2 separate regions of the Homo sapiens genome follow, and region 2 is linked to region 1. Evidence: fine-mapped expression QTL. A gene starts in region 1. The other region holds a variant in brackets. All regions are shown on one strand. Distances are from middle to middle. Region 1 holds the start of DPH2 (diphthamide biosynthesis 2). Region 2 overlaps IPO13 (importin 13).

Region 1 (2,907 bases):
AAATATGACCCAGTAGGCTGGGGCCAAGCCCATATCAAGAGTTCTATGGATGGTATATGGAAATGGGGAAATTAAGGCATAAAGCAGTTGGCTCACCCTTTGTGCATACACAGGCAAAACCCCTTACCCAGGGCATGGGCACAGGCCGGCTCACTCAGCAGCACCACAGGCGCTTTGGGGTCTGGGTTCTGGGCCTCAAAGGCCTTGACACAGAGCTCCAAGGCCACAGAACGTTGACGAAGCACGAAGGCAACGGGCAGTGGGCGGGCTGGAGGGCTTAAGCAGGCAGGGCCAAAATGTATGAGAGCCTGAGCTCCAGCTTGCTCAGCACCCAGCACATCCACGCAGCAGCTGCAGGGAAGATAGCATCAGAGAAATGGGTTCTCTTCTGGAGGCGAGTTGCTGTCATCACTGGGAAATGTGGTCAGTGAATAAAATGGTTTCATTAAAGGAAGACATTGTCAATGAAAGGAGCTAGCATCAGAAGGGGAGTCATTACCATTATCATCAAGGAGAAACACCACCATTGAAGGCAATCACTGTCATAGACGTAAAACCCCATGAGCCCCGGATCCCCAGGCCTGGCCCACCTAAGGCCAAGTTCACACCTGCCGTAGGCTGTGTCACCCAGAATGAACATCTTTGACCCTGTCGTCTCCTCCAGTCGTGCAGCCACAGCCACAGCATCTCCCAATAGCTGGTCAGGGAACTGCAAGGCAACCTATAAGCATAAACCATGGAGTCAGGGACAGCCTCTCTCCCACTGAGGGCTTCTTTAAAGCAATCTTCCAGGAGCTCCCACTCAACCTTCAAAGCCCCTGGTCCCAGAGGGGCACTCTGCCCCACGTAGTAGGTGGAAGGGAGGGATGGTCAACGCGCTGCGGACAGACTGATTCCCCCACCCTCTCGCCCTCACAAAATCCCCCAAGATCCGGATCCTCTGGGCGACCCATCCCGACAGAGGCGAGCCACCCTTCCCTAAGTCTGTCCTCACTCGTTCACACCCCAGGTCGCGGACAAATCCAGCGACTCGCTCCAGCTCGTACACTCCGTCCAGGTCCGGAAGAGGAGTAAGCAGTCCTGGCACCCCGGTCTCTCGCTGCAGCGCCGCCTCGGCAGGGCTGCTAAACATCGACTCCATGAGGCACAGCTTGGGTGGTGGGATGCAGCGGGGACCTCCCTGGGACAGCTTCGGGGCCTGAGTCCTCTAGAGCAGCCCTCAGGGGGTCAAAATCGCCTTGTGGGGGTAGGGGGAATCACAGTCGGCCTTCAGCCGGTGAGTATCCCCTTCAGCCATCCTAACTACTGTTTCTCCGCTACACGTGGGACTACCGGGGAGGTTACTTCCGGGTTTTAGAGGCGTGGCTGATAGCGATTTTGCCAATCCTAAGTCAGCACAGCTCCCGCCCTCCAATCCCCGCCACCGCCCCGCACAGAGAACCAATGTTCAGCCTGAGTCCCAGGCCAGCCGGAAGTACATCGAGGAAGGCGCGGAGCCTTGTGGGCATTGTAGTTCCCCTGGCCTCCTCTCGGGCGCTGGGAGTCCGGTTCAGCCGACCCGCGGCCATCAGGAACACCGACTTCACTGTTAAGCATTTCACGTGCACTCTATCCTCTGGGCAGTATCACTGCATAATTCTTTCATTCATTCATTTTTTTTTTTTTTTGACAAGGTCTCGCTATGTTGCTTGGACTGGAGTGCAGTGGCGCGATCTCCACAACCTTCACCTCCTGGACTGAAGCCATCCTCCCACCTCTGCCTCTTGAGTAGTTGGGGCTACAGGCGCACCACCACATCCAGCTAATTTTTGTATTTTTTGTAGAGACAGGTTTTTGCCATGTTGCTCAGACTGGTCACAAACTCCTGAACTCAAGCAATCCACTCATCTCGGCCTCCCAAAATGCTGAGAGTACAGACGTGAGCCACCGTGCCCGGCTACACTGCATAATTTTAAACTTGGTGCCGACCGGCTCGGGTTTGAATATTGTGCTTGGTCACTTGCTACTGAGTATCTTAGGAATGTCCCTATGCCCATTTCCTTATCTGAAGAATGGGGAGTTGTGACAATAGTACCTCTTAATAAGATTGTTGTGAGGGTCTAATTAATTTATATACAAAACTTTACAAAGTAGTTCTTTGGATATCGCATGCAGTGAAAGCATTTGCTATTTAATCAGCCAAATACTGAGCACTTACTGTACATTAGGCACTTCATTTTTAGTGTTTACAGTCTTTGGAGTAAGAATTATCCCGAGTGGTACCAAGGACATGACTGGCACATCCTCAAGTCACAGGAGATGCTCTGCACAGCTCCAGCCATCCTCAAACACTGCTGCTTCCCAGCAATACCCCCAGTGCATACCACATAGACCTCTACCCTCCAGCCCCTCACATCCCCTCTACTCCCCATGTTTACTTATATGCAAACACCCCCACATGCAACATCACTTGAAATGCCCTCCTTACATACCTCTGTCAGATACGGAAACTGAGGTTCAAAGAGACTACTTGTGTAATAAGACACTAATTCTGTGGCACAACCAGCATCAAACCCGGATCTATTGAACAGGGAAGGAGTGGGATGAATGTGGGAGTAACGAGTTCCCCATCACCCACAAGGAGATTGAAAGCTCAAGGGTAAAAGTGGGGAGAACTCATTCTGCTCTTCAGATCTTACTGAGGAGAAGCCTGGGGTACCTGAGAGGCAGCCTAGGTGAAACTATAGCTGAGGAGACAGAAAGGGAGGCAACACTGCTAAGGGAGAAAAGCAAGAATAGGTCAGGAGCTGTCCCTGGTGCTGATTGATCCCTGACCATCCTGTGCTGGAGGTCCTGTGTAAGCGGGGAGCAGCGGACATATGGACAACCTTAGGTCCTACTTTCCTCTTTTCTCCTCTGCGGCTGAGA
Region 2 (2,907 bases), 21 kb after region 1:
GCTCCGAGTCCTGCAGAGCAGCAAAGGCAGCCTGAATGAGCGCCTCACAGTCCTGCAGCGGCACCTCCAGCTGCACCCAGCTGGAGAAACACTTGAGCACCTTCTGACGCACACAGCTGGGTGAGCTGGGCTGCTGTAGCAGCTGCTCCAGCAGCGGGAAGACAGCCCCACATTCCACCGCCAGGCTGGTCCGCACCAGGCCTTTGCGGTACTGGGGTAGGCGACTGGTCTGGAACTCCTCAGGCAGCACTGTCAGCAGCTCTAACAGGGCTAGGCAGCGGCCCTGCCCATCCACTGGTGAGTCCTCAGCCTGGAAGAGTCGTACCATATCTGCCACAGCACATGGCCAAGCGTCAGGCATCATGCTGAGAGCCAGTGAGGCCAGTGCCACGCACAGCCGAGTCAGTACAATCTTGGAGCCACTGGCAAAGCGGGTGATCTGGGTGAAGAGCTGTGCCTTTAGGCTTTCATACTGGTCAGTGGGGATGTCACTCCAGTAGCGAGAGATCTTGATGTGAAGAGCACTGGCCCCAAAGTACTGGATCTCTGGTACCTTGTCGGGCTGCAGTAGCTGCCAGCTGAAGTGCCAGGCCTGTGGGGAGACCTGGGCCTGCATCAGCCACTTCTGAGCCAGGTTCTTATTCTCAATGTTGGGATCATAGTAGAGCTGGTGCAGCGCCTGCAGGACAGCACAGGACTGAGCAGGTGCTGGCCACTCTGGATCCTGCCAGAGCCCAGAACAGAGGCGTGACTTGGTCCTGCAAGGCTGCTCCCTCTCCCTGACTGGGGGGCTGAGCAGGGAGAGCTCAGCGCTCTGCAGTGTTTCCTGGGCCTGGGGTCCTGCTGATATCTTGAGAGCCTGAACCTTGCCCATGCTCTACCATATCCTCTTCTCCTTACAGCAAAACATTATGGGTTCAGAGAGGGAATCTCCACAGGAAAGCAAAAAAGAGGAGGCTGATCTCCCCAAAGGGGAGGCACTTGAGGGCAAGGCCCAGGTGGAAGGAACAGCTTCACAGGGATGAAGCTAAGTCTGAGAAGGGCATGGAACAGCTTGAGGGGACTTGACCCTCCCAGGCACAGCTGCTCCCATCAACTCCAACAGCTCCTTTCAGCTCCCCCAGGATCATCCCTAGGTCAGTCCAGATGCTGGCACCAAAGCCAGTGTGAAATCAGAGCAGGACTAAGACTTTTGCCAGGCAGCCCTGGGGCAGACATGCTGGAGGAGAGGGTGAGAACACTCCTCAGAGGGCACATGTCCAACCAATTGATCCAGAGAAGCCTTGGCCATAGCTGCAGCCCTGGCAAACACCTAGCTTAGTGCTCTCCACTAGCAGAATCCCCGGGGTCTCAATTCCAACGGGACTTTATGAAGTAAGAAAACAGTGAGATTTATCTCCCAATAGCACATGGAACAGTGCGCCACCATGCCAACACTGCCCTGCTCCAAGGGGCGGAAGAGTATGGCCAGGACC[C/T]TGACCCCTAAGCAGGCTCCATCCAAGTAAGCTTAGCTCTATTTGTACCCCTGACAGCCAGTTATGGCCATTGGCCCTTGTTTGGCCCCTCAGGGACGCCAAAGCAGGCAGAAGAGATGCATCCTCATTGTTTGTTATGGCAAACGGGGGTTAAGGATAACAAGTGAACATCATTCCCTGCTTTCAAGTAAGGGAGCCCCATCTCCCCATTCATCCCAGGGTGCATGCATTCCTGCATTTCAAGTTGTAGGGAGCAGATACAGAAAAGAACCAAAGAGGCAGTTCAGAAAGATGGGCTGGGCAGTCGGGGAGCCTGGGAGGGCCATGGCAGGGAGCTATGTGGGCAGGCGAGTAGGGAGGAGCCCTGTAAGGCTCCCAGCAGGGCCAGGACCCTTGGACTCAGCACAAAACAAAGGGAGACAGCCCCAGGCCTGCCTGCTCAGGACTGGTCTGGCTTCCATCCAATAAAGGAAGGACCCTTCTCCAAAGAGTCAAAACAACCCAGATTGTTTTAGTTCCAGATTATTTTCTGAGCCCTTGGCTCAACAAAACCAGGTCCAGGATGGTTTGGCATCAGTATAATTCCAGGAGACTGAGCTGCAGGTCTCCTGGGTTCCCAGTTTCCTACTGCACTGCTCATGCAGTTCCCATGGAGCTGGAACATAGCCAGTCTGGACGGAAGGCTAAGTCACAGCACCCTGAAGGGACCATCCCAAGACCCTAGAGTATCTATCCACAGGGGACCTGCCTGTAAGGAAAGACAAAAATAGCCCATTAGGGCACTGCAATACTGCCTGCCCAGAAAGAGAGCAAATGCCAGGTGCTCTGGGGGCACCATACCAGCGGGCACCCAGCCCAGGCCTGAGCTCTGCCATCAGTGACAGTCCCCAGAACTTCTGCTCTGTCACTGGAGTGCCCACCCCAGAGCCCTCATACCTTCTCCACGTTCTCCACAGTGAAGTCCAAGGCTGGTGCTGCTCCAGCCCCTGCAGCCCCCGGCTGCTCCTCCCGCCGCTCCATCTTTGCTCCCTCCCTGGCAGGGAGGTGGGCCCTGATCTGTCTCCTGCCCCAGCCCCTTGGCTGCTGGCCCCCTGCTAGACCCCGGCTTGGGTGCCCAGGGAGTGGTGGGGTGAGGGGGGGCCCAGGGCGGGCATGGCTGCCGAGGCCTCCCCACCTCGTTTGGGGGTGGGAGGCTTGCCAGAGACCAAAATTGGTGCTCTTAGGAGACCCAATGAAGGGGACTCCGAGGAGGGAGCCGTCAGTGAGGAGCTCTCAGGCGGGGATCCTAGTGGCAGGTAACAGCTCTGTCCCCAGAATCTGTGTGGAGGGAGTCACAGGGGAGGGAGGCCTGCGGGGGAAACCGAGTCCCTGGCTCTTGAGGGGTCACAGGGTCGATGGCCTGTACCCACAACACCCCCGCCTGGGTGAGCTC

The links.
Region 2: its variant is fine-mapped to the expression of DPH2 in whole blood (TOPMed, PIP above 0.99).

What each region holds. Positions count from the first base shown.
Region 1 is chr1:43,968,410-43,971,316 of GRCh38, reverse strand. It overlaps DPH2 (diphthamide biosynthesis 2), which reads right to left and starts at 1,307. Exons shown (of 6, transcript NM_001384.5): 1 at 995-1,307; 2 at 609-721; 3 at 128-351. The coding sequence starts at 1,141. RefSeq lists enhancers at 1-511, 997-1,276.
Region 2 is chr1:43,947,189-43,950,095 of GRCh38, reverse strand. It overlaps IPO13 (importin 13), which reads right to left. Exons shown (of 20, transcript NM_014652.4): 1 at 2,412-2,907; 2 at 1-679. The coding sequence starts at 2,495. Among named protein-coding and RNA genes, the nearest start is that of IPO13, 1.7 kb to the right of the region's middle. The variant C/T (reference allele first, on the strand shown) is at 1,476.